3 linked regions of the Homo sapiens genome follow. The protein of the gene in region 1 interacts with the protein of each later gene in a biochemical or structural test. Each region holds a gene or a part of one and is shown on either strand. Other genes may lie near its edges.

What was found. The genes of interacting proteins can lie anywhere in the genome.
Region 2: the proteins of MAPK8IP1 (region 1) and MAP3K12 form a complex in vitro, tested with the Homo sapiens proteins (one study listed by BioGRID).
Region 3: the proteins of MAPK8IP1 (region 1) and LRP8 form a complex in vitro, tested with the Homo sapiens proteins (one study listed by BioGRID).

The regions. Positions count from the first base shown.
Region 1 is NC_000011.10:45,902,625-45,906,970, forward strand, and holds the end of MAPK8IP1 (C-Jun-amino-terminal kinase-interacting protein 1), read left to right. Parts: coding exon 1-560; intron 561-740; coding exon 741-816; intron 817-1,364; coding exon 1,365-1,537; intron 1,538-1,830; coding exon 1,831-1,940; intron 1,941-2,093; coding exon 2,094-2,210; intron 2,211-2,346; coding exon 2,347-2,417; intron 2,418-2,526; coding exon 2,527-2,625; intron 2,626-3,024; coding exon 3,025-3,097; 3' UTR 3,098-3,841; downstream 3,842-4,346. Other genes in the region: FREY1 (protein Frey 1), read right to left, coding at 3,945-4,066, 4,245-4,318. UniProt on the Homo sapiens protein: The JNK-interacting protein (JIP) group of scaffold proteins selectively mediates JNK signaling by aggregating specific components of the MAPK cascade to form a functional JNK signaling module. Required for JNK activation in response to excitotoxic stress.
Region 2 is NC_000012.12:53,482,428-53,489,458, reverse strand, and holds part of MAP3K12 (mitogen-activated protein kinase kinase kinase 12), read left to right. Parts: intron 1-2,030; 5' UTR 2,031-2,067; coding exon 2,068-2,512; intron 2,513-2,836; coding exon 2,837-3,020; intron 3,021-3,211; coding exon 3,212-3,403; intron 3,404-3,983; coding exon 3,984-4,142; intron 4,143-4,244; coding exon 4,245-4,403; intron 4,404-5,093; coding exon 5,094-5,202; intron 5,203-5,438; coding exon 5,439-5,548; intron 5,549-5,693; coding exon of another isoform or gene 5,694-5,697; exon of another isoform or gene 5,698-5,712; intron 5,713-5,735; coding exon 5,736-5,852; intron 5,853-5,972; coding exon 5,973-6,110; intron 6,111-6,269; coding exon 6,270-6,894; coding exon of another isoform or gene 6,895-6,960; exon of another isoform or gene 6,961-7,031.
Region 3 is NC_000001.11:53,262,040-53,269,070, reverse strand, and holds part of LRP8 (low-density lipoprotein receptor-related protein 8 isoform 1 precursor), read left to right. Parts: exon of another isoform or gene 1-1,146; intron 1,147-1,913; exon of another isoform or gene 1,914-1,975; intron 1,976-2,423; coding exon 2,424-2,598; intron 2,599-3,057; exon of another isoform or gene 3,058-3,319; intron 3,320-4,674; coding exon 4,675-4,902; intron 4,903-6,506; coding exon 6,507-6,625; intron 6,626-6,863; coding exon 6,864-7,003; intron 7,004-7,031. UniProt on the Homo sapiens protein: Cell surface receptor for Reelin (RELN) and apolipoprotein E (apoE)-containing ligands. LRP8 participates in transmitting the extracellular Reelin signal to intracellular signaling processes, by binding to DAB1 on its cytoplasmic tail.

The DNA.
Region 1 (4,346 bases):
GCAGAGGCCCCCAGACGCTGCAGAGCCCACCTCCGCCTTCCTGCCGCCCACTGAGAGCCGGATGTCAGTCAGCTCCGATCCAGACCCTGCCGCCTACCCCTCCACGGCAGGGCGGCCGCACCCCTCCATCAGTGAAGAGGAAGAGGGCTTCGACTGCCTGTCGTCCCCAGAGCGGGCTGAGCCCCCAGGCGGAGGGTGGCGGGGGAGCCTGGGGGAGCCGCCGCCACCTCCACGGGCCTCTCTGAGCTCGGACACCAGCGCCCTGTCCTATGACTCTGTCAAGTACACGCTGGTGGTAGATGAGCATGCACAGCTGGAGCTGGTGAGCCTGCGGCCGTGCTTCGGAGACTACAGTGACGAGAGTGACTCTGCCACCGTCTATGACAACTGTGCCTCCGTCTCCTCGCCCTATGAGTCGGCCATCGGAGAGGAATATGAGGAGGCCCCGCGGCCCCAGCCCCCTGCCTGCCTCTCCGAGGACTCCACGCCTGATGAACCCGACGTCCATTTCTCCAAGAAATTCCTGAACGTCTTCATGAGTGGCCGCTCCCGCTCCTCCAGTGAGTCAGCAAGGGGAAGCAGTGGGGTGGGGGGGTCCCTAGCGGGGGCAGAGCCAAAATGCGAAGTGTTCTGGGAGGCGACCCCAGGCCCCATCTGGTTAGGACTGAGGCTTCTACCTGCCCCGCTAAACCTGGATCAGAGCTGCGACCCCCCATCCAGCCACACCACCTCACCTGCAGGTGCTGAGTCCTTCGGGCTGTTCTCCTGCATCATCAACGGGGAGGAGCAGGAGCAGACCCACCGGGCCATATTCAGGTGAGAGCCATGGGCTGGCTGGGCCTAGCCAGGCAGCAGTTTGGGCCACACACCACCCTCTACTTGTCACCCCTACATGGCCTCAGCCTAACCCCTGCCATCAGCCTTCATTTATCCACTCAGCCCTGGGAGGACAGTGTCCACTCTCTAGGGACTCAGAGTATGGTGACAAAGAGGATGGCTACAGTGAGGGATCCCAGAACTGTGCACCTAGTCTGGCCAGGGGCAGGGCACCCAGGAGGGTGACCAGGAGGATGCCTGCCCACACCCCACCTGACCCTTCTCTAGACAAAAGCCTGCGCTTCCCACAGCCTCTCCATTTTAGAGGGGGCCCTGCCCACACCCTCCCTTGGCCTGTGTTTCCTCGATGGCAGATGCATGTCTGCTTGACCTTGCTCTCCCCTGGGGTTAGTACTGCAACAGGCACACAGGATGCTTTTGCAAATGTTTACTGAAATAACGATGCTGCTGTGGCTCCCAGACCCCAGAGTAGGCCTGGCTGGACAGGCCTTGGTGCCGAATTTCTCACCTGTCCTTGCTGGGGACAGGTTTGTGCCTCGACACGAAGACGAACTTGAGCTGGAAGTGGATGACCCTCTGCTAGTGGAGCTCCAGGCTGAAGACTACTGGTACGAGGCCTACAACATGCGCACTGGTGCCCGGGGTGTCTTTCCTGCCTATTACGCCATCGAGGTCACCAAGGAGCCCGAGCACATGGCAGGTAGTGTTCCCTCCCTGGCCTGTGCCCCCAGCCACCACATCTGTCTGCCCCAACTTGCTGCTAGGTGAACGTGTACTCCAGATCTCAGCCAGCCAGGTGGGGGGCTGAGTGGAAGTGATTTTAGGTCCTTTTCACGATCAAGCAAAGTGAGGCCCGGCCAAGTTGGGCAGCCAGGGATTGTGGCAGCCTCTGTGGGCTCTGCCATTCCCCGTGCCTCACCCACCCTCCTTCACTTGGCTGCTCAGCTCCCTCCTGCTCTTTCTGCCCCTCCTCAATTCACGCTTGCTTTCCAGCCCTGGCCAAAAACAGTGACTGGGTGGACCAGTTCCGGGTGAAGTTCCTGGGCTCAGTCCAGGTTCCCTATCACAAGGGCAATGACGTCCTCTGTGCTGCTATGCAAAAGGTACCTGAGCCCTCTCCCTTCTCCTCCCTTGGATGGGTCCCTGGGGCAGAGGGACGCAGGTGTCTAGAGGCAGTAAAGGGCTCAGGCCCTGGGACAGGAGGGATCAGCAGAGGAACAGACAGCAGCTGACGTGGCTCCATTTGTCACCTGTAGATTGCCACCACCCGCCGGCTCACCGTGCACTTTAACCCGCCCTCCAGCTGTGTCCTGGAGATCAGCGTGCGGGGTGTGAAGATAGGCGTCAAGGCCGATGACTCCCAGGAGGCCAAGGTGACTTCTTCCAACCCAGCCCCTTCCTTCCATGGCCCCAAGCTCTCCCCCAAGACTTGTGATGAAGAGGCCATCTCCTGTCACCCTCACTGCAGGCCAGGTGACCGCCCTCTTGCTTCTTTTCTCCCTCCTGTAGGGGAATAAATGTAGCCACTTTTTCCAGTTAAAAAACATCTCTTTCTGCGGATATCATCCAAAGAACAACAAGTAAGTGGGGGTGGGATGGCAGTGGAGGAGGCACGGGTGGTCTGCAGCCTTGAGGTGGGTGGGTGTGGGCCGAGCCCCCGTCCCAGCACAGACAGACCTGTCCCTGCAGGTACTTTGGGTTCATCACCAAGCACCCCGCCGACCACCGGTTTGCCTGCCACGTCTTTGTGTCTGAAGACTCCACCAAAGCCCTGGCAGAGTCCGTGGGGTACGTGTACACCCTGCTGAGCACCCAGCCCGAGGGAGCACGCCCAATCCCAGGCCCTGGGGCTGCTTCCTGGCGCTCAGCTTTGCCCCTCGGTTTCCCCCGCAGCTCTGGAGAACTATCTCCGGACCCCAGTGCGGGTGGCCTGGAGGGAGGGTGGCGCGGCAGGGTGAGCCTGAGGAGCAGCTTCCAAGCTTGGTAGCTGTTGGGCCATGTCTTCAACTGACATCTTACTGGGAAACGCGATGGCAATTCTGTAGAGAACAGAGCCAAGTGGCCCCAGCCAGAGGAACCAGAGCTGCACTTGGGCCCCAAGGCTCCAGCGGGAAAACCCTGGGTCGGGATCCTGTTCCTCCCTTGCCAGTGGCGATCTGAGCCATCTGTGTGTCCCCTGGCTTCTAGGAGAGCATTCCAGCAGTTCTACAAGCAGTTTGTGGAGTACACCTGCCCCACAGAAGATATCTACCTGGAGTAGCTGTGCAGCCCCGCCCTCTGCGTCCCCCAGCCCTCAGGCCAGTGCCAGGACAGCTGGCTGCTGACAGGATGTGGCACTGCTTGAGGAGGGGCACCTGCCACCGCCAGAGGACAAGGAAGTGGGGGCCGCTGGCCCAGGGTAGGGGAGGGTGGGGCAATGGGGAGAGGCAAATGCAGTTTATTGTAATATATGGGATTAGATTCATCTATGGAGGGCAGAGTGGGCTGCCTGGGGATTGGGAGGGACAGGGCTTGGGGAGCAGGTCTCTGGCAGAGAAGGATGTCCGTTCCAGGAGCACACGGCCCTGCCCCATCCTGGGCCTTACCTCCCCTGCCAGGGCTCGGGCGCTGTGGCTCCTGCCTTGATGAAGCCCGTGTCCTGCCTTGATGAAGCCTGTGCCACCTGCAAGTGCCCGCCCTGCCCCTGCCCCAACCCCCACCGAAGAGCCCTGAGCTCAGGCTGAGCCCAGCCACCTCCCAAGGACTTTCCAGTGAGGAAATGGCAACACGTGGAGGTGAAGTCCCTGTTCTCAGCTCCGTCATCTGCGGGGCTTCTGGGTGGCTCCTGCCACTGACCTCACCGGCATGCTGGCCTGTGGCAGGCCTAGGACCTCAGGCGGGGAGGAGGAGCTGCCGCAAGGCCCTGTCCCAGCAGAAGAGGGAGGCTTCCTGACTGACACAGGCCAGCCCCATCTTGGTCCTGTCACCCTGGCCCCAACTATTAAAGTGCCATTTCCTGTCTGGACTGCAGTGGATGTATCTGCATGGGCCCCTCCCGTCCCCGTCTCGCTCCCAGCCCAGGAAAGCCAAGCCTTTGTCACACATGGTATCTTTATGAGGGCCTTGGGTCATAGGTGTGCATCATAGTAATACTCGGCAAGGTCGGGCCCGTCCCGCTTGCGCTGCTGGGCCCTAGACAGGAGGGGTCGAGGCCCTCGCGGCCTTGGGTGCTTGGGGAGGATGCCATAGTCTAAAGAGAGAAAAGAGGGCATGGGTGGTAGGGGGCAGCTGGCTCTGATGGAACTGAAGTCACCCTTGAACAGATGTGGTTTGGGATGACAAGCCCCTGAAGGCTGGACTTGGGGCACCTCTTAGGGGCGTCTCCACTGTCAGGGATGGGTAGGGGAAGGGGACAAGAGAGATACTACCATCCACCAGGCCGGAAAGTGGCTGCGAGAGTTCCAGGGGGGCGGAAAATGCCTCAGGAACAGACCGCTGAGACCTGTGGGAGATGTCGGGGTGCTCAGCCC
Region 2 (7,031 bases), on another chromosome or scaffold:
AGGGTTTGCTGTGCCTTAGTGACAGCCAGTTTATTCCTTTGTATAGCTGAGGCTCAACTACAGCTCGCCTGAGGTCACATAGCCATTATGTGGCAGAAGCAAGTCAGGATTCAGGGTTTTTGTTTGTTTGTTTGTTTTTTGAGACGGGGTTTGGCTACTTCGCCCAGGCTGGGATTCAGTGGCTTACTGCAACCTCCGCCACCTGGGCTCAAGCAATCATCTCACCTCAGCCTCCAGAGGAGCTGGGACCACAGTCACAGGATCACCATGCCCAGCTTTGTTGTTTTTTGTTTGTTTGTTTGTTTCTATTTTTGGTAGAGACAGGGTTTTGCCATGTTGCCCAGGCTGGTCTCAAACTTTTTTTTTTTTTTTTTTTTTTGAGACAGAGTTTCACTCTGTCGCCCAAGGCTGGAGTGCAGTGGTGTGATCTTGGCTTACTGCAACCTCACCTCTGGGGTTCAAGTGATTCTCCTGCCTCAGCCTCCCGAGTAGCTGGGATTACAGGCATCCACCACCACGCCCAGCTAATTTTTTCTTTTTAAGTAGAGACAGGGTTTCGCCATGTTGGCCAGGCTGGTCTCAAACTCCTGACCTCAAGCGATCCACCCACCTCAGCCTCCCAAAGTGCTAGGATTACAGGCGTGAGCCACTGCGCCCAGCCAAGGTCTCAAACTCTTGAGCTCAAGTGATCCACCTGCCTCAGCCTCCCAAAGTGTTGAGATTACAGGCATGAGCCAACACACCGTGCCAGATTCAGGTTTTTTAATGGTTGCTTTTTATTTATTTATATATTTTTTTAGACAGAGTTTCGCTCTTGTTGCCCAGGCTGGAGTGCAGTGGCATGATCTTGGCTCACCAAAACCTCAGCCTCCCGGGTTTAAGCAATTCTTCTGCCTCAGCCTCCCAAGTAGCTGGGATTACAGGCATGTGCCACCACGCCTAGCTAATTTTGTATTTTTAGTAGAGACGGGGTTTCTCCATGTTGACCAGACTGGTCTCGAATTCCTGACCTCAGGTGATCCGCCCGCCTCGGCCTCTGAAAGTGCTGAGATTACAGGTGTGAGCCACTGCACCCGGCCTAATGGTTGCTTTTTAAATAGCACCCAGCTATGAACTGGGACACATCTCCATTGCCTGGAAAGTTTGGGGAGCAGAGGATGGGGCAATGGAGAAGAGGAAAGAGAAGACAAGACCTTGTTTGACCCCTGGGAGAGCCGCTGGACTGAAGGGAGGGCCAAGGGGGATGAAGCAGTGGCCTTCTGTGACAGTGTCTGCATCCCCATTGGCTGCTTCTGCCTTTTTCCCCACCTGTGCTGGGGGGACAGAACTCTGTGGTTACAACCTTCACTTACCTTGGAGAGGCCCAGGGGTGTGTTTTAGAATGAGGCTCTCACCTGAGTTGAGTGTTCCTGAGAGGGCCTCAGTAGTACCGTGTGTAAGTACCTGGGTGGGAGGCCCGGGTGCATCGCCTGTGTGTAGGCAGCTCAAGAATGCTGTCCAAGGGTGTCTGAAAGGTTTACCAGCATCCTGTGTGTGCTTCAATGTGAAGGAGGTCTAGGTGTTACTATTGTGTGCCTGAGGTTGACCCCGAGGTAAAGGTGTAAATGTGAGACCCTTCTGATACCTGTGTGTGCCTGTGAGTCTCGGGTGAAAAAAATGTGCTGCAGCAATGAATTAGTCATCTTACAGGGAGAAGGGAACTCATCTGTTACCATTACTCTTGAATTTGAGACATATTTTACCAGTGTGTACCCACGTGGGGCTGTTACCTGAGAATGATACTCAGGTACGATACCTGTCTACCTATTACTTGCCTTACTAACATGCCTGAGAGGAAGCCCAAGTGTATCAGATTTCCTAAGATGGCTCAAGGTGCAATTTGGAGGGCCATGGGAAACGGAGCCACAAGTGTTACCTCCAGCGGGGCTACTGTGAACCCAGCACCCCAGTCTGTGCCTCTGGGATAAGTGTCCTGAGCAGGCAGTCCTGGGGCTTTAACAGCCCAGCCCCTCCTTCCTTCATTCCCACAGGGCCCAGTGTTCACCATCATACCAGGGGCCAGAGGCGATGGCTTGCCTCCATGAGACCCGAACACCCTCTCCTTCCTTTGGGGGCTTTGTGTCTACCCTAAGTGAGGCATCCATGCGCAAGCTGGACCCAGACACTTCTGACTGCACTCCCGAGAAGGACCTGACGCCTACCCAGTGTGTACTTCGAGATGTGGTACCCCTTGGTGGGCAGGGTGGGGGAGGGCCCAGCCCCTCCCCAGGTGGAGAGCCGCCCCCTGAGCCTTTTGCCAACAGTGTCCTGCAGCTACATGAGCAGGATGCAGGGGGCCCAGGGGGAGCAGCTGGGTCACCTGAGAGTCGGGCATCCAGAGTTCGAGCTGACGAGGTGCGACTGCAGTGCCAGAGTGGCAGTGGCTTCCTTGAGGGCCTCTTTGGCTGCCTGCGCCCTGTCTGGACCATGATTGGCAAAGCCTACTCCACTGAGCACAAGCAGCAGCAGGAAGGTAGGCCACGTCCTTGTGGGAGCCTCCTCTCTGTTTCCCTGAGCCCGAGATCTGTTGGTCAGCTCCGCTAAAGTCACGCAATGGTCCCTTCCCTCCCCATGGCCCAGCCCTAGTCCCTTAGCCATCCATCAGCCTCTAACTTCCCAGCTTCTTTTAAGGCCACCCATTCATTCCTTCCCTGTCCCCTCGAACCTTCTTCTTGGCCTATTTTTGGCTTTCTGCCTCACCCTCCTTAAGTCAATTCAGCCAACCCAATGCTATCCTGTCCCTGGCCTTGAGTGTGGCTCTTTCTGAGGCTTGTGGCACTGTGCCTCCTGCCCACAGACCTTTGGGAGGTCCCCTTTGAGGAAATCCTGGACCTGCAGTGGGTGGGCTCAGGGGCCCAGGGTGCTGTCTTCCTGGGGCGCTTCCACGGGGAGGAGGTGGCTGTGAAGAAGGTGCGAGACCTCAAAGAAACCGACATCAAGCACTTGCGAAAGCTGAAGCACCCCAACATCATCACTTTCAAGTGAGGTCCAGGGCAGGGGCTGGGTGTTGGGGATACTATGCTAAGGCCTGGTACCCTCCTGGGCAGTGGGACCTACCCCATCCTTCCCCAGAGGAGATCCATAGGTGGAATGGGTGGGAATGGGGGTTCCAGGTATGAATCAGGTGAATGCTGAGCCAGCTGAGGCCTTCATACCATTGTTTGGCTCCCAGGGGTGTGTGCACCCAGGCTCCCTGCTACTGCATCCTCATGGAGTTCTGCGCCCAGGGCCAGCTGTATGAGGTACTGCGGGCTGGCCGCCCTGTCACCCCCTCCTTACTGGTTGACTGGTCCATGGGCATCGCTGGTGGCATGAACTACCTGCACCTGCACAAGATTATCCACAGGGATCTCAAGTCACCCAAGTGAGTAAGCAAGCAGGGAGCAACAGATGTGCATGCAGGTGACCCACTCAAGTCAGTGTGGCCTTCTCCCGGCTTCCAAACCATGCCCTAGGTCCATGTGGCCATCTCAGAAACCTCTTCCAAGTGACAGTCCCATCTCAGAAGGGCTGTAGTGAGCCCCTCACCTTTGAGTGTCCCAAATGATTTTAAACTGAAAGGCAGGCCGGATGCAGTGGCTCACGCCTGTAATCCCAACACTTTGGGAGGCCGAGGCGGGTGGATCACAAGGTCAAGAGATCGAGACCATCCTGGCCAACATGGTGAAACCTCGTCTCTAATAAAAATACAAAAAAATTAGTCAGGCGTGGTGGCGAGTGCCCGTAGTCTCAGCTACTCAGGAGGCTGAGGCAGGAGAATCACTTGAACCCAGGAGGTGGAGGTTGCAGTGAGCCGAGATTGAGCCACTGCACTCCAGCCTGAGTGACAGAGTGAGACTCCGTCTCAAACAAACAAACAAAAAAACCTGAAAGGCAGAGTTGCTGCAGAGTTAGATGAGGTGTGTGGAGGGGTGTGGACCCCAGCTGACTACACTCTTTACCAGCATGCTAATCACCTACGACGATGTGGTGAAGATCTCAGATTTTGGCACTTCCAAGGAGCTGAGTGACAAGAGCACCAAGATGTCCTTTGCAGGGACAGTAGCCTGGATGGCCCCTGAGGTGATCCGCAATGAACCTGTGTCTGAGAAGGTCGACATCTGGTGAGAACTAGGCTGAAAACTGAGAAGAGTGGGTGGCCAGCCCTGGGGGGATTGTGGGCAACTTCTAGGGCTTGAGCACAAGTGATGTCCCCTCATCCCTAGGTCCTTTGGCGTGGTGCTATGGGAACTGCTGACTGGTGAGATCCCCTACAAAGACGTAGATTCCTCAGCCATTATCTGGGGTGTGGGAAGCAACAGTCTCCATCTGCCCGTGCCCTCCAGTTGCCCAGATGGTTTCAAGATCCTGCTTCGCCAGTGCTGGTAAGGATGGTCTGGGCTGGGATACTGGGCCTGGAGAAGTTGAGAAGCACGGTAGTACTGGGCTGGACTGACCAATAAATGGCAGGGGTACATTTAATTCAAAGAGACTGACTTTCATCTGAATCAGGCTCATGCTACCTTCTGAGCTGAGTCACCAGGGGTAATTGGTATCTACTCTGAACCTGTTTCCTCATCTATAAAATACACTTAACGATATCTGCATTCCTGATTTGTCATGAAGTGCCAGTGAGTGCATACAAGTACAAGGAAGGAGCAGCATAACCACCAAGCATGGTTGGTTGAGCCTCAAGTAAACAACCTTAGAACACAGAAGGAAAGGACCCCAGACCCTCATTTGGAACCTAGACCCAGGGAAGTTTGACGATTGCTAATCTGTCACTGAGCATTTCCCAAAATGTGGTTCCTTCAATGAAGTTATTCAGAAAAGGCTTTTATTTTGGGAGACAAGTTGGAAAATATGGGGTTCAATAGGTTTCCTTACTGCAGGATTTTGACACACTAATGAATAGTGTGTAATATTCTCTAGAGACAGTTGACCATAAGTTCTTTTGTCACAGAGTACATTCTAGGATTGGATTCTCCAGGACACACTTTGGGAAAGGATGCTCCAGTTCCTATCTGATCCTCCCTCAAATTCTCCCCTCTCCTTCCTAACTCCATTCCTTTCAGGAATAGCAAACCACGAAATCGCCCATCATTCCGACAGATCCTGCTGCATCTGGACATTGCCTCAGCTGATGTACTCTCCACACCCCAGGAGACTTACTTTAAGTCCCAGGTGTGCTGTGGGTAGGAAAATAAATACCTAACTCCCCTTCTTTGCAGAGATGATGCTATTTGAGGGGGAGGCTGGGAAATGGGTTGAGTGGGACTGAAGAGATTGGCTCTTAGAGGGCTGAGTCAATCCACTCCTTTTTGCTCCAGCACACACATTGGCAGTGGTGTGGGCAACCTGCAGAGCCTTTCACTGGGTGAAGGGATGGCTCTCACTCTTCATCTGCTCTCAACCCATAGGCAGAGTGGCGGGAAGAAGTAAAACTGCACTTTGAAAAGATTAAGTCAGAAGGGACCTGTCTGCACCGCCTAGAAGAGGAACTGGTGATGAGGAGGAGGGAGGAGCTCAGGTGAGTTCCCGTGCTTGGGGAGGTGATTTTACTAACAGCAAGGACTATGCACCCAGTCAGCTCCTACCCAGCCCCAGGGCGGGTGGAAGGACTACGAAAGGACTGTGGACAGGAATTCTGAGACTGAGATCTGTTATGGCCCTAGGTGAACCCAGTTCACCTTGGGGAACCTTTCTGCCCGTTGCAGACACGCCCTGGACATCAGGGAGCACTATGAAAGGAAGCTGGAGAGAGCCAACAACCTGTATATGGAACTTAATGCCCTCATGTTGCAGCTGGAACTCAAGGAGAGGGAGCTGCTCAGGTAACCCTACCTGTCCTTATGCACCAAGCCCTGGAGCTGTGCCTGCCTTAGAGGTCCTACTGAGACTGGGGTGCCCCTTCCTGGTCATTTGCCCAGCTGAGAAGGTGCCTGGATCTTTAGGCGAGAGCAAGCTTTAGAGCGGAGGTGCCCAGGCCTGCTGAAGCCACACCCTTCCCGGGGCCTCCTGCATGGAAACACAATGGAGAAGCTTATCAAGAAGAGGAATGTGCCACAGAAGCTGTCACCCCATAGCAAAAGGTGGGACATGAGTACTGTGGTTCCAATATGGCAAGAGGGATACTGAAGTGGCAACAGGTATATTAGCAGGGAGATGTGTACTTTAGTGTCCAAGGTTAGGGAGTGCTTTGAGTACATAGATTTGGCAGTCTTAACCTTTTACTTTTCCTCTTCTTCCAGGCCAGATATCCTCAAGACGGAGTCTTTGCTCCCTAAACTAGATGCAGCCCTGAGTGGGGTGGGGCTTCCTGGGTGTCCTAAGGGCCCCCCCTCACCAGGACGGAGTCGCCGTGGCAAGACCCGTCACCGCAAGGCCAGCGCCAAGGGGAGCTGTGGGGACCTGCCTGGGCTTCGTACAGCTGTGCCACCCCATGAACCTGGAGGACCAGGAAGCCCAGGGGGCCTAGGAGGGGGACCCTCAGCCTGGGAGGCCTGCCCTCCCGCCCTCCGTGGGCTTCATCATGACCTCCTGCTCCGCAAAATGTCTTCATCGTCCCCAGACCTGCTGTCAGCAGCACTAGGGTCCCGGGGCCGGGGGGCCACAGGCGGAGCTGGGGATCCTGGCTCACCACCTCCGGCCCGGGGTGACACCCCACCAAGTGAGGGCTCAGCCCCTGGCTCCACCAGCCCAGATTCACCTGGGGGAGCCAAAGGGGAACCACCTCCTCCAGTAGGGCCTGGTGAAGGTGTGGGGCTTCTGGGAACTGGAAGGGAAGGGACCTCAGGCCGGGGAGGAAGCCGGGCTGGGTCCCAGCACTTGACCCCAGCTGCACTGCTGTACAGGGCTGCCGTCACCCGAAGTCAGGTAAAGTATGGGAAGGCTCCCAAGCTCTTTCCCTTTTTCCTTATCCTCCCTGGGGTCCAAGTCTAATCCCCCACATTATGCTCAATTTTAAGCCATTCCCTACTTCACCCTTCGTAACTATGTTCCCTTCTCCTGGA
Region 3 (7,031 bases), on another chromosome or scaffold:
CTGGATTTCACTCTAACTGGGGGGAAACCATTGAGGGCTCTGAGTAGGGAAGGGACATGGTGTGACATTTTATTCTGACTGCAGTATTGAGAACAGACTGTAGAGGACAAGGGAGAAGGCAGGGAAACCACTTAAGAGGTCATTGCAATAATCCAGAAGCGAGGTGATGGTGGCTGAACCCTTATTCCCACATTATTACTGTGGGAATAATGAAAAGTGGACAGACTGCAGATATAGTGCAAAGGCCAGCCAACAGGATTTGCTTATGAATTGAATGTGGAATGTGGAAAAAAAAGTTACAGCAACTGAAAAAATAAGATTGCTACGTATGGGCTTGGGAAAGATGGTGAGGGAAGCAGGTTTGGAGGAATCTTAGGCTGTTTTGGACATGTTATGTTTAAGAAAACTGGTTAGGTATCCAAGTAGAGATATTGAGAAGGCAGCTGGATATATGAGTCTGGAGTTCATATGCAAGTTAAATACAATATACAACAGATAAATTATAACAATACAGCAGCCATAATACTGACATGTAGCCCATAAACCCAAAAACTGTAACACCCAAACTGTACAATATGTAACTCATACATTAGTATATCACATATAACGTGTAACCTGTTCTTGCCCCCATATAGAACACATGTAATACATGACACAGATTATGTACATGCACTGGAGACAACATGCAACTACCCATGCATATACAAAATCCACACACATGAATATTTCAAGTGCAGTTACATAAAATCTCAAATCATAAACACAGGGGGTTCCTGTCACAGTCACAGCTGTCATTTAAGATCACTCCAACATGCCCCTTTAACCTGGCTCCTGCCTTCAGGGAGGTGAAGTGTCATTACTGTCATTTTGGGGTGAGGGAAATCACAGCTTGTCAGTGGCAGAGCTGGCCTGTAACTCAGCTTTCATCCTTGCCCCTTCCTGCACCTTGAGCCCATTCTCCATGCTATTTGTACCACACTTCTGTCTCACTCCCACCCTGCTTTGAATTAGTCTCCATCACTACACACAGGTCACACACCCAGCCCCAGGCCCTACCTGACTCTGTGCTGGTCCCATCCTCCAGGGAGCACATTAGCTTGGCAAAGATGCACAGTGACAGGGACTGGTGGCTGGCAGAAGTGTCAGCTGGAAAACAAGAGAAGGAGGCACAGGGAGCTTGAGGGGCAGGTGTTACTAGGAGCAGCCCCTCAGACAGTGTTGGTGCCTGAGAGTGGCCCAATACATCTAGAAACAGCCTGTGGGAGCTGGTGCTAGGCCCTCAGAGGCCCATGGGACAGTGTCCTCCCATATGGAGTAGCCAGGAAAGTCTAGGTCACTTATTTATCATCTTAAAATCTAACCCTAAATCTAAGAAAAATACAGGTTTTGTGTATACATGAGCAGTTTATGTTGTCTCTACTGCATATATATAATCTGTGTTGTATATCATATATGTCCCATCTCTGCCATTGGCTCAGGATAGAGAACAAACTCACCCAGCTCATAGGACCTTTTGTGATCTGGCCCCTGCCAATCTCTGAAGCTCATCTCTTGCTATGTCCCCAATACTTTCTATCCTGAATCATCTTTTTTTTTTTCCTTTGAGACAGAGTCTCTGTCACTCAGGCTGGAGTGCAGTGGCACAATCATGGCTCACTGCAGCCTTAACCTCCCGGGCTCAAATGATTCTCCCACTTCAGCCTCCTGAGTAGCTGGGACTACAGGCATGTGCCACCATGCCCAGCTAATTTTTTTTTTATTTTTATTTTTAGAGATGGGATTTTGCCATATTACCCAGGCTAGTCTCAAACTCCTGGCCTCAAGCGATGTGCCAGCCTCAGCCTCCTAAAGTGCTGGGATTACAGGTGTGAGCCACTGTGCCTGGCCCCTAGTTATCTTTCTAAGACACTTACTTGCTCAGGTAGTTCCTTCTTGAACCACAGCAGTAGGGCCCAAGCAGAGAAGATGATAGTTGCTGGAAAGAAATACATAGTAGGTGGAAGGGACAACCTGAGCAAAGGCTCTGAGGCAGGAAGCCCATCCATGGCTAGGTAATGGTATCTGGTAGGTGGAATCAAGCTATGTTGGAGAGGCGAGTAATGAGGCTGGACAGGGAACTTGGGGTCACACTGTGGAAGGCTTTCAGTGCAGGCCTAAGGAGAAAATGGGGAGCCATAAAAGATTTTGGAGAAGTTTGTATCTAATAAAAAGAATAAGAATCTTCCTGCTATGCGTGGTGCTCTGCATCTTCTGCTTTCTGTACTCATTATTTCATCTGCTCCTGCAACCTGTAAAGTAGGAATTGTCACTACTATTTTAAGGAAAATGGATGTGTCAGCCAGCAAGCCAGTGGCAGAGTCTTGGTCTCCAGGCTCCCTGCCTCTTGCACTGACTCTTTCTCTTTCAACCTCCCTGCATGACAGCTGGCAAGAGCCCATCCCTAATCTTCACCAACCGGCACGAGGTGCGGAGGATCGACCTGGTGAAGCGGAACTATTCACGCCTCATCCCCATGCTCAAGAATGTCGTGGCACTAGATGTGGAAGTTGCCACCAATCGCATCTACTGGTGTGACCTCTCCTACCGTAAGATCTATAGGTGAGCGGCCATATCCTCTGCAGCAAGGCATGAAGAGTGGGGGTGAGGGGTGGTGACAGGTGAGGAGGGGAGGAGTGGTGTCTGCCTCTAGAGCTCCTCAGGACAGAGTTGGGACTTGGGAAGAGATGCAGGATCACAGTGGATATGGAACTTCTGGGACTTTACTGGGGCTGGAGTAGTCTGAGGGCTCCCTTGGGTTAGCAGCTTTGAGCCCCAAACACCTGGGATTTGTCTGACCTCTGGAGGCCTAATATGGAAGCACAAGACACAGGAACTGTTTGGCCAGGGCAGAAAGGAAGAAATCCTGGCTTTGGGGAGGACTTTCCAAGCAGCTCACATCCCTGTGTGTTGGAACCTGGGGACTTAGACCTGGTCCCTGCCCAGAGGATCCCACTCACAACACAGTGACATCCATTTGTGATGATCATGAGAAAGTACAGAGGAGGCCTCCGAACCCACCTGGGCATCTGATCTGGCATGCCTTCCTGGATGGCATCACCCCAAGGCCAGCTTTTCACTGTCTTTGACGCCACAGTCAGTGGACCTGGTGCTTGGGAAGCTCTTCACACACTGGAGGAGGTTCTCTCCTAGGACTTTCTCAGATGCCAGCACCTGCCCCACTGCATGTCTGGGCCCTCTTCAGGCAGTCATGTCCTTTCTTTGTCCTGAGATCCACTTGGCAGGAATGCCGATGACCAGGCGCTGGGTAGACACTGAGTCACTGATGAAAGAATGATGGGACAGATGGGTGGAAGAGTGGATGGAAGCAAATATAGCAAGTGCTACTCACTGACAACTAGATTCCTGCCTCCCTGCAACATACAGACACTCCGTTCACACACACCCAAAAACATAACTAGAACAATGCCTGTCCAAGAGATGTAACTGAAAGAGGCAGGATTTGGTGACAGACTAGATATGGGGCTGATGGAAGAAATTTACTCCTTCATAGTGAATTTTGGGAGTTTCAGGTTTTTGGCTTGGGAGGTTTCATGAATGGTGGTGCTGTTCTCTGATGTGTGAAGCAGTAGAGGAGGATCAGGGCTCAGGGTTTGGGCCGTCTGGTTGGCCGAGGGGAAGGGAATGGGGATGAACAGTTTTGGACATATTGAGTTCAAGGTGTCCATGGGACATCCAAGGGGAGCTAGTTAGCTTTGCAGTCTGGATCGTAAGAGAGCTGTTGGGATTGGAGACTTAGTTATTGATGGCAGTGGACACTAAGGAACTAATCACCCAGAGAGAGGGCAAGAAGAAGAAAACCTCTGGGGAAACAGCATTTGCTATTTTGCTAATGTTGCCTCCTGAGTGTCTACTGTATTCTTAGCCCTTCTTTCCATTCTCACTGGCACGGTCATTCTTCAGACTCTCTTAATCTCCCACCCAGATGCTGTAACGTCCTCCTAACCAGTTTCCCTGCTTCATTCCCTCTCCTTCCAACCCATCCACTCCATAGATGCCACAGTGAACTAACATGCTTATTGGACTATATCCTCTGGCCTGTCTAGTTATCACTGGGGAGAAATCCTAATTCCTTGGCGTGGTACTCAAAGCCCATCAAGATGGGGTTCCTGCCTACACCTGCTTGCAGTCTGACACCCACATAAGCAGCTCCCCTAAGTATCTCACTGTTCCAGAGCAGACTCACCTCTGGCCATTTGCACAAGCCTTTCTTGTTCCCTAATGGCTTTCTGTCCTGGTGACTTCATGCTCCTGGTGAACTCGTCCTTCAGGACTCAACTATAAAGCCTTCTCCCGCCCTCTCGGATGAGGCAGTCTCCATGCCTCTGCTGCCATAGCCTCTAATGCTTTCCATAATCACATTGTATTATATCTGGCTCACCCTAATGGGCAGAGCTGTGGAGCAGCCCCACCTTAGAAAGCCAGAGACCGTGGCCCATGTAAGTCTGTACCCCTACCCTGGTACCCCAGGGAATGTGTAGAGTGGAAATTATCCACGTTCCTCTAAAAATCTATTGCCATGGCCCAGATGGAAGAGAGGGGAAGGGTGCACAGGTAGCTCCAGATGGGCCCATGGGTGGAACATCTGCCCCATGGTCATCTCTGTTTTCTCTTAAGCGCCTACATGGACAAGGCCAGTGACCCGAAAGAGCAGGAGGTCCTCATTGACGAGCAGTTGCACTCTCCAGAGGGCCTGGCAGTGGACTGGGTCCACAAGCACATCTACTGGACTGACTCGGGCAATAAGACCATCTCAGTGGCCACAGTTGATGGTGGCCGCCGACGCACTCTCTTCAGCCGTAACCTCAGTGAACCCCGGGCCATCGCTGTTGACCCCCTGCGAGGGTGAGTGTCCCAACTGAACTTCCCATTCTCCCACCATAGGTGCTCAGTCCTCTTGTGTCTGTCACAAGGGCTATCTTGAGGGTTCTAGAAAGCTCTGGGCCACTCAGACACAGGCCATGGGGAAGAAAGTCTTGTTAATCCCCAACCAAGGTTCTCTGGGCATTGGTCACCAAAGTTCTCCCTGGACTCTCCCACCCACTCGTTATATCGTAGAATTGGAGTGTCTCAGAGCAGAGTAGGGCTCTAGAGATGGCCTGATAGAAGCTCCTGGGGGAGGAAGCCTTTCTTCAGGCTGCTGTAGGTGAGCATCTGACAGCTGCTCACATACTTCCAAAGACAGGTAGCTCATTACCTCCCATAGGGCCTGTTTCACCGTGGGGCAGCTCTGCTCATTAGAAAGTGGGTCTTTTCCCCTCATAATGCCAAATCTATCTCCCTGCAACTTCCTCCATTGGCCTCTGGAGTTACATAAAACATGTCTATTCCCTGCCCTGTGAGAGAGCCAGCAAGATTTGAGGACCAAGATCACTGGTCTGTTCTGCTTCAGACTGCCTGCCTCCATCCCTACCCCTGTTGCCTATGGTCTCTGGGCCCTCACCACCTAGGTTGCCCTGCTCTGGCCACCCCTCAGTTTTGGGAGTTAGGGATTCTGAACAGAACAGGACTCCCTCTCTCCCTCAGTGTGGATATCTTGAGATGGTTTTTTTAGCGTTATATCATGTTAAGTTTAACAGAATCAACAGCTGCTTCCTACTGCTATTTCCTTGTTAAACAGGGATAAGAAAACCCTCTTCTTCGAGCAAGGGCAGCTGGTGAGGGGAGTACCACATGGGAGGTTATGTGAGGCCTTGGGAAGTGACTGATAGCTGCCATTCACTAAGCATGGGTCAGGTGCTTCCAGCACAGAACTAGGCACTCTGACAGATACGGAGCCTCTCCTCTTACCCTCACTTCATCCCTGTTCTCTGTCTGTTCTCATGCAGACCTTGTGTTGCACCTGCCACATCCTGTCCCTCACATCATAGAGTTACACCCAGCCCAACCCCAATCCACTGCGGATCGTCAGGGTCCCAGGAGGAAACCCACTGCATACTCAAGATAATCAGAGGAGGGTTTAATAAAGGGACTATTTACAAAGGAGTGGGTTAGGTCTAATTTACTACCTTGGATTAGTAACAGTGGGCTGCTACTGGCCCTAGTAGGCCTGAGGAGACAAAAGCAGGGAGGGTTACCTGAGTTAGGAAGCTCATCCACTTTCTCCTCTGAAACCAGAAAAGAGAGGGCTTACTAGGGCCTTCCCCACACTGACACCCTAGGGCTCTAGTTAGTTAGCACTGCCAGAAGTGGGAGAGATGGGGTCACAGGCTATTCAGCTGAGTCTGGGTGCAATCTCGGAGAATAGTTTTCCTCAAGTTCTCAAATGAGGTGAAGGCTAAAGTGCCTGCTAAATCTAAGATTTGATGGTTCAAAAGAACTTTAGAGGTCTTCTCAGTCCCTACTAAACATAAACCACAACTAGTCAATGGGTTATTGAGCTCTTGTGACTCAGACCACCCCGGTCATGTCCCCAGCAAGAAGGCAAATTGGGTTATTTTGTCTTTTAGGTTCATGTATTGGTCTGACTGGGGGGACCAGGCCAAGATTGAGAAATCTGGGCTCAACGGTGTGGACCGGCAAACACTGGTGTCAGACAATATTGAATGGCCCAACGGAATCACCCTGGGTGAGCCCTGCCTTTCCTGGGTTGGGGGCCTATTCTAGTGCCTTGTCCTGATCACTGTCTGGAACTCCATGAGTCTTGTTTCTGGGTCCTCTCATGGTGCCAGTGACTTTGTTTCCTAATGGTTGCCGTAGGCTGGCCTCAGTGTGAGGCCTAGAAATGTGGGCAGGGAGAGGTACAAAGGAACAGAGCTCCAGACTGGGGTCCCAGGTTCATGACCTGATCCTGCTTCCTTCCCAAGATCTGCTGAGCCAGCGCTTGTACTGGGTAGACTCCAAGCTACACCAACTGTCCAGCATTGACTTCAGTGGAGGCAACAGAAAGACGCTGATCTCCTCCACTGACTTCCTGAGCCACCCTTTTGGGATAGCTGTGTTTGAGGTGAGTCCTGTAAGGAGAGGCAAGGGCC